2 separate regions of the Homo sapiens genome follow, and region 1 is linked to region 2. The links come from fine-mapping of genetic effects on gene expression. A gene starts in region 2. The other region holds a variant in brackets. All regions are shown on one strand. Distances are between the middles of the regions.

Region 1 (4,390 bases), 69 kb after region 2:
CCTTGGGTAGGTTTAGAGTGAATATCAGGAAAAATCTTGGTTAGTAAAGATCAGATGCATTACGAGCTGAATCTTGACAAACATGTAGGAGTAAATTAGGTAAATGAAGACAAAAGTGTATTCCAGGCAGAGAAACAACACAGGCGAGGTTATGGTATCAAGAAATCATGCGTTTCATAATTCTAAGTTTTGGAAAACACGGATGCATAAGTGCAAGTGGGGAGTGTCAGGGGCTATTGATGGAGGCAGGGGCCACCACTCGGGAAGCACTGAATACCAATCCCTGAGGATGTGCATGGACCTTCTAGTTACTGATAGGCTCCACCATCCTCAGGTCTCCTATGCTATCAACATACCCATCCTTGCCACAGTGGAATTCAATGTAGTTGAAGATCTCTGTGTAGCTATTGCAGTACTTCTGCCACTGACACTCGAGTACTTTGAGGGCACCCTGGGCCCATACATAGGCATATCTATATCGGTTATTCCCATTTCAATAATGCATATACACTCCATTTTGTGCCATAAGCTATAGATGGACATATGAGAGCTCTTGCGTTTCAGAGCTTCTTTTTCTCTCGTGAGGACATCACATTTGTACTCTTCAAAATCTTGGCTTGGATCTAAATAGTGCAGGGTCATGAATTCTCTCCAGGAAACGTCCTTGCTGTGTACAAGTAGCCTGCAAAGAATGCAAAGCAGGGCCAAGGGACTGCCCCAGATCTTCAGAGAGGATGCCATTTCAGTCACCAGGGACACCTGCGTGTCCACAGGGAAAAGAAAGAAAAGCATCATGTAGACAATGTCCAGAGAGCTGACCTTTATCTTAAAGTTCTGTTTCCTGCCAATGCAAGCACTCAGCACAATTTTACTATTTGGTTCCCTGATTAGAAGATAATTCTCATAAGAGAATAAAGTTTCTAAGAACTAAAAGTATGCTTCATCTTATGTGAGCCAAACACAAAGTTGGAAAAAAATAGATGAAGTTCATTTTGAGAATTTCAAACATCTCCTGTCTACTCTGTCATCCACCCAACCTGCACTGGGTAGAATCACCCAATCACCCTCCAGCTGGCTTCTTTTCATCAGATCAACTCTCAGGAAGTCACGCATGCAATAGAAAATGGCATTTTAAGCTTTTTGTCTGCGAAGTGGAAAGGGCTGTAACTTTTTTTTGCACATTAAATATTAAAGTTTATTAAAAATTGCTCATATTGAAAAACAAAGACATCAATTATACCCACCCCCGCCAACACACAACAAATACACAATCCAGACACAATTATGTTGCTAGTGTCAGCTCAAAATTATTAAGCAAATACTGAAATGTAGATAAGTTCCAGAAAATAGCAAGCAGAGCCTAGAAAACATTTATAAAGCTCTTAGTTGTCATGGTAACAGATAAACTCTGGTATCTGAAATTGTAGAAATCAGAAGTTCAACATTCGTGTGACATTACTTTTCTATGGTTTTTCAAGGGATAAGAGGGAAACTTTTCCAATTAAGTTGTTCCAGGGCCTTCTTGAATTTAACAGATGGCTGTTGCAAAGACATTAATTGAGGTTGTAGGACAAGGGATACGTGGATATTTCCGTTCCCAAAAGAAGTGAGTAGATCTAAAGGCAGAGACTGACTTCCAGGTTAGGCAGCCTGCAGAGCTAGTGCTGATCCATCCTCCTCTATCATGCCCCCCATGAGAGCCATAAACACATGGATGCTGGAGGCAATGCTGTTTTTTGATTCCTGTTTTCATGCATTGCTCACAAGCTGCAGATGCATGCCATGGGCACTGTTGCCTGCCCTCCCCCTCTCCTTGCTCTCCAGGGATGTGCCTTTGCTAATGTACCAGTCAGGATGCTTTTGCTTCCTTTCTTCCTGTCTGGGTCTTCGTCAGCATCTTCTGAGTAATGAGGCTGCTGCTGGGCGGTTCCAGAGACTCCACTTTGGTTCCATCTGGCTGGGGAGGTCTCACAATCATGGCAGATGGCAAAGAGGAGAAAGTTACATCTTATGTGGATGACAGCAGGCAAAAAGAGCAGGGCTGTCACATTTTAGACGAGTGTAGAAGATGAGTGACTACTAGGCAGGTGGTTCTTAGGCAGGAAGGCTTTGATTCTCTGAAATCACAGCCCAGGCTACAATTACACTGACTCTGCAAAATGATGCTTCTCCAATATCTTGACTTCCTTATAACACTTCTCCCAAAGCCTGGGTGGAACATATGGTTACTACTAACTACCCGTATTCCTTCTCAGGGGCCATTCCCCTAATTATCACTATTACAAGTGATCTTCATTTGTCAGAGCTGCTTATTGACGATGCCATCGTAAAAGGACACCAGTTTAGAAATATAGCTGTACTCAATTAGGCATAAAGACTAAAAAAGTCCCCACCGGAGCTACTGTGGTCACAGCCTAGGATGTATGGTTGTTTGAAAAAGTTACCTCTTTAAACAAGCTCTCTGTCCTCATTTGCCATGAGGAGTGTTCCTGGCCCTACTGAACCTCTAACCTGATTCACAGCTCTGAGTATCGGTGTCCTCACCGATGTAGGGCCTAATAACAGCTCCCTACAGACCTGTGAGAGTCTAATGAGATGCATGTATGCGAGAGCACTTCTAACAATGTCAAATGCTCACCTCAGACACAGAACAAAGGGTCGGCGCTTCCTATCTGTGGAACCCTGTCCTGGTGATAAAGACCTACACATGTTAGGAGAGTAGGATGCAAGCAGCTTTAATGCATTGTGGTTGAGGTGACTGGG[G/A]GTGAAGGAAGGGAGGGGCAGGGAAAAGCTTGTATCAGTGGGAATGAGGCTGACTGGAATTCAGGCCTTAGTTTTCCATGATTTGGATCCTTCTCCATTCTTTGCTATCTAAAAGCTCAATCAGGCTGGGGGCAGTGGCTCACACCTGTAATCCCTGCACTTTGGGAGGCCGAGGCAGGTGGATCACTTGAGGTCAGGAGTTTGAGACCAGCTTGGCCAACGTAGTGAAACCCCATCTCTACTAAAAATACAAAAAAATTAGCCTGGCACGGTGGCGTGTGCCTGTAACCCCAGCTACTCAGGAGGCTGAGGCAGGAGAGTCACTTGAACTCGGGAGGCGAAGGTTGTAGTGAGCCAAGATAGTGCCACTGCACTCGAGCCTGGGTGACAAAGCAAGACTCCATCTCAAAAAATTAATACTAGGCCGGGCGTGGTGGCTCACGCCTGTAATCCCAGCACTTTGGGAGGCCAAGGTGGGTGGATCACTTGAGGTCAGGAGTTCGAGACCAGCCTGACCAACATGGTGAAACCCCATCTCTACTAAAAATACAAAATTACCTGGGCGTGGTGGCATGCACCTGTAATCCCAGCTACTAGGGAGGGTGAGGCAGGAGAATTGTTTGAACCTGGGAGGCAGCGGTTGCAGTGAGCCAAGATTGTGCCACTGCACTCCAGCCTGGGCAACAAGAGCAAAACTCTGTCTAAAAAAAGAAAAAAAATTAATACTAACAAATAAATAAAAATAAAAGTTCAATCAGCCTCCTGCCAGTGCTCCTAGTCATCCCCCGAGGGTCCTCAGCAAAGCAGTTCTTACCCTACTCAGACTCTGAGTTCAGGTCACTGGTTATAGTGGGGTTCAATGTGTAGATCTGAAGAGCAGAGTCTGCATCCTCCTCCTTTTCTCAGAGCCCAGGAAATCTGCAGCAGTGGAGAAAGGAATGGCAGGGGGAGATTCAGCGCTTGAGTTGATTGGTAGCAGAGGTGGTGATGGGAAACAGCCTTATTATGTGAGCCTGTTCTTCTATAGTGTCATCTGGAACACTTGGGTTCACTCAGACAGTGGCTTTGAGCAAAGGCCACAAACATCAAAGACTGACTTCAGGGCACAAAAGAACTGAAAGACCCTAGGTGACCCCAGAAAGGGGTTATCTGGCACTAACAGGAGACAACAAGAGATGTGCCTCCCGCATTTAATTTCTGACAAGCTTCTGGGAAGTCTCTGGATGACTAGGCTACATTACATGGGAACTTCACTGAGGAAAACCACATTTAACATTGTGAACTGTAGGGCCTTCATTGAGAGTGAAAGAATGTCTAATGAAACCAATAGCCTGGTAGCTATGAATGATTAGGTAGCCAGTATCTGAAGTTTTTCTAGTCAGCTTATAACTATGACCCTTAGCTGTTTGCTGACGCTGTAGTGCTTACCATTAAAATGTCACGTAGCCTAGCCATAGTTTGCACAATGTTCCTATATATAACGTCTGACTGTGAAGTATGGGTCACAAGGTACTGGCTGAGTTGTTTTTCAGGAACTCAAGATTCAGTCCTGAACTGAGCTCAAACCAGACAAGACCACCTGCCCATGTGAGCGTCCAAGGGGTCACCTTTCCGCGTCACAGCCCAG
Region 2 (4,390 bases):
CGTGAGAAACCAGGAGGTCAAGCAGGGAGTCTAGAACAAGTTCAGCAGAAGCAACAACAAATGTTGCCATGGCATCTACTGCCCTAAGACAAGCGGGGCTATGCCTCTGCAACTGGGTCAAGGATAAGGCTGCAGTAAGGGCTTCTGATGGTTCCCCATTGAAGTGCAATTAAAGCTCCAAGGGCTTGTCTAGATTGCTATGCATAAATAGACAAAATGGCTTCCTGTAGTTTCAGGATTCCTAGGGCCAGGGGCTGTTGAAGAGCCTTATTATAGTTACAGAAGATCTGTTCACATCTGAACTGTGGTTCTGAAATCATCTTGCTGGGTGGAGGCCACTTTTGTGCAGCCACGCCCAGTGCCTTAGTGGGGTCCACCTGACTAACCAAACCATCCCACCAGGCGCCCTTCAGGTGAGTCCTGTGCCTTATTTATGTCTGTATCCCACAGTCTAATGAATGAATGAACACATTCTAACTTGACTATTCAAGAGAATAAAAGTATTATTAAAGACTCAGAAAAATAAAATACAGGTGGGGGCTGGGGGAGTAAGGAAACTGTAGGGGCCAAGGAAAAATTCCCCTTTCACCCTCCAAAGGTTTGCTGAAAATCAACTGACAAAAGACAGATTGATAGGAAAAAACGCATACAAATTGATTTGATCGTAGTTTTACACGACACGGGAGCCTTCAGAAGACCCAAAGATAACAGGGGAAAGTGGGCATTCTTACACTTGGATATCAACAAAGTATGAACAGCTGTGTAGAAATATGACTGGACAACAGGGCGATCTAATGAAAATAGACTGAGTGGGGAAACCCAGCAAGGCCTCCCTGTCTAGATTCTTCTTGGCCTCTCTGAGCATTCGTCCTTTTTTTCTGGGTATGGGGGGCAGGACCCTCTCTGGAATGAGGATCTTACGACCTACAATCACACAAGGTAGGTCAGATAATTTCACTATGGCCACTTTTTACACAGAAAGGCTGAAACAATCTGAATACACAGCACGAAGGGATATTTTGATAATTCTTAGAGGTATCCAAATTGTTACTCAGCAAAAAAACAGGTCTCTTTCTAGGAGGGCATTCTGCTGCTAATAAATATGATATTCTTTGTATTTTTTCCCCAAAAAGAATTTGAGATTTGGGATTTAAGTTTATCTTTAGTTCCTCTACTCAATTCCGACCTACAGGGTCAGTGGTTACTGTAGATAAGAACAGCCCCATCCTCTCGATGCCCCCAGAGCAGGGGTGGAGGGTGGGTGGGAAGTGGCCAGAACTGGGTGAGCGCACCCTAGAGGCCTCCTCCTCCTCCCTATTCAGTTACTCCCCCTTTCTTCTCCAGATCTGGGAAGCCTTCCAGCTGGGGGCAGCAGGACAGCCTCCATTCCCCCCGACCCCGCCTCCCATCCCCGGGAGAGGTAGCGTTGGGAGAATGCCCTCCTAGAAAGAGACTTGGGTTTTGCTCCCTAGGAGCCCTGGAATAGCTTTGGCCAGAATTCCCTATCTCCCATTAGAACCTCTCCTTTGCGTCCTTTGTTAACCTCCAAGTCTACTTGGTGAAAACGCCCACGAAGAAGTAACAAGGACTTTGTTCCTAGTGTGCCAGGTTTGGGCACCAGTGCTGTAGTGGCTTTCTCTGCTGCTCCTTGTGCATCAGCAGACAGATGTGGTTCACATAGGAAGAAAGACTAACGTAGGCAAAGATTTGCTCTTTCTTCAGCAGCCCTAGAAAGACGGCGGCCTGGGTGATTCACCACTCCTTCCTCACGTCCTTGATTTTATTTGAACTGAGCTCCAGATGCTCCTCCCACCCTTTTCCTCTTGGAAGCCAAACCCCTTTGTAATCTGTATAAGGTCCACACCCCGGGAGCTGAGTGATTGCAGAAACTGGCCTTCCATCTCTCTCAGACACCAAGCTGCAGATCCAGGTAAGCAGCCCAAGAGGTGTTCTCAGGTGCCGCTTCTGCTTCAGGGTTGCAGAAGAGGGAGCTAGGGCCAGTCCACAGCACTGAGAAAGATTGGGTGATGCTAGCGCTGAAAAAATGTGGCCCAGGCAAACATCAGCTGGGGGCAGAGGGGTCAGGGTGGAACGTGCAGGCTGCAGAGCATCCATGGGACTGGAGAAGAAGGAGCCTCCAAATTGGGGGAGGCCAGCGTTTCTCTCTGGAATACAATGGAATCTTTTATGATGCCAGTGTCAGGCACTGGCCTGAGTTCCCTTATGCTCCAAGACAACAAGGCTCTGTCACCCATGGCCCTGGATGTCGGGGATACAATTTGGTTCATGATTTATTCAAACTGATGTTTCGATGAGCCATTTGAGCACTGGGTACAAATGTATTTTGGATCAAAGAAACTCCAGTATTCAAAGATAGGAACTGACAGGATTTTAGGTCACTTTGTAGGTCACCACCTAGAGGGGAGGAAGACCTCGCTTTGGAGAGTGGGAATAAAACGCTCGTGGAAAAGGGTACACGTGAGTGTCTCATTACACGAAAAACCTCAGGAAGTAGGATGGACGTCTTTCTGGCTGACCTGAAACAGAAAGTGTAAACCAGGCAAGCCATAGGTGGGAGCTGGAGTTCTTTTTCTAAGAGGGCTCTTTTCCTTCTCTCTCCTTTTCTCAATTAGGCTTTTCTGGGAAAGTGAGGCCACCATGGCTCTGGAGAAGTCTCTTGTCCGGCTCCTTCTGCTTGTCCTGATACTGCTGGTGCTGGGCTGGGTCCAGCCTTCCCTGGGCAAGGAATCCCGGGCCAAGAAATTCCAGCGGCAGCATATGGACTCAGACAGTTCCCCCAGCAGCAGCTCCACCTACTGTAACCAAATGATGAGGCGCCGGAATATGACACAGGGGCGGTGCAAACCAGTGAACACCTTTGTGCACGAGCCCCTGGTAGATGTCCAGAATGTCTGTTTCCAGGAAAAGGTCACCTGCAAGAACGGGCAGGGCAACTGCTACAAGAGCAACTCCAGCATGCACATCACAGACTGCCGCCTGACAAACGGCTCCAGGTACCCCAACTGTGCATACCGGACCAGCCCGAAGGAGAGACACATCATTGTGGCCTGTGAAGGGAGCCCATATGTGCCAGTCCACTTTGATGCTTCTGTGGAGGACTCTACCTAAGGTCAGAGCAGCGAGATACCCCACCTCCCTCAACCTCATCCTCTCCACAGCTGCCTCTTCCCTCTTCCTTCCCTGCTGTGAAAGAAGTAACTACAGTTAGGGCTCCTATTCAACACACACATGCTTCCCTTTCCTGAGTCCCATCCCTGCGTGATTTTGGGGGTGAAGAGTGGGTTGTGAGGTGGGCCCCATGTTAACCCCTCCACTCTTTCTTTCAATAAAACGCAGTTGCAAACACCTGATTTCTGAAGCGGTTCTGTCTAGGTACTGTTTCTGGCATTGCCTTCCAGCAAGGGGTAAGAACTGTAAATCTGATTCACTTTGGAGAACGGTGAATGGAGTAATTAAATGCCTTCCCTTCTGACTTGGATTTTAGTGGCTTGAGAAAATTCCTTTCCTTGTAGATTCCCTGATGCCAAACATAAAACTGTTAAGTGTGGGCTGTTTTAGACAAAAGGGAGCTACAGCCTGGGACACTGCCATGCAGGGTGAACTGACAGAGGGGTGAAGCTCAAATACAATCATTCTCTGGCACAGAAGGAAGGCAAGTGTGACCTCAGGAAGATCCTGCTTAGCCTCAGGGTGGGGAAGAGGACTCAATGAAATTATGATCCTAAATTTCCATTTTCCTTTTTTTTTTTTGAGTGAGCTATTACTAAATCAGAAAAATGGGCACCTCTTAGTTGGAAAGCCAGAACCTTACATTTTAGAGCCAGAAGTGACTTTGGAGAGCACGGAATTGAGGGATAGCAAGTAGATTTCAGTTTGTGTACCAACTCTAATTGGAAGTGCCGGTCGGGCGTGGTGGCTCACACCTATAATTCCAGCACTTTGGGAGGTTGAGGCAGGTGGATCACCTGAGGTCAGGAGTTCAAGACCAGCCTGACCAGTATGGTGAAACCCCCTCTCTACTAAAAATACAAAAAGTAGTGGGGCGTGGTGGCAGGTGCCTGTAATCCAGCTACTAGGGAGGCTGAGGCAGGAGAATCACTTGAACCTGGGAGGCGGAGGTTGCAGTGAGCTGAGATGGTGCCACTTCACTCCAGCCTGGGCAATAAGAGTGAAACTCTGTTTCAAAAAAAAAAAAAAGGAAGTGCCTACCCAAAATGCTGTAGCAAAAAATTCTGGACAGTGGTGTGGTTGAACAACAGCCTCTATCGAAGGCACGAGAGGGGGAAGGGTGTGTGTGCCACACATTTGCCATCCCTGACCAAATGTGACCCCTGCCTTTCCGGTGACTTGCACATGGCTTGTTGCTAGT

Alleles and levels. Alleles are on the strand shown, and positions count from the first base shown. SD is a standard deviation of normalised expression in the study named.
As copies of G replace A in region 1, the expression in atrial appendage of the gene that starts at base 1,883 in region 2 goes up (small effect, 0.17 SD a copy in GTEx).

The links. PIP is the estimated chance that this variant, and not a neighbour inherited with it, causes the effect. A credible set is the group of variants that fine-mapping cannot tell apart.
Region 1: its variant is the best candidate, but not a certain one, in a credible set for the expression of RNASE1 in atrial appendage (GTEx, PIP 0.52).

Annotation. Positions count from the first base shown.
Region 1 is chr14:20,730,929-20,735,318 of GRCh38, reverse strand. The region is part of intron 2 of LOC107984671 (a long non-coding RNA gene); the gene reads left to right. It also overlaps the pseudogene EDDM3DP. Among named protein-coding and RNA genes, the nearest start is that of EDDM3A, 13 kb to the left of the region's middle. The variant G/A (reference allele first, on the strand shown) is at 2,764.
Region 2 is chr14:20,800,337-20,804,726 of GRCh38, reverse strand. RNASE1 (ribonuclease A family member 1, pancreatic) reads left to right here and starts at 1,883. Exons shown (of 2, transcript NM_002933.5): 1 at 1,883-1,930; 2 at 2,634-3,499. The coding sequence starts at 2,659. The coding sequence ends at 3,129. LOC107984671 (a long non-coding RNA gene) reads left to right here and starts at 4,198. Exons shown (of 3, transcript XR_001750624.2): 1 at 4,198-4,390. The region is part of intron 3 of LOC105370397 (a long non-coding RNA gene); the gene reads right to left.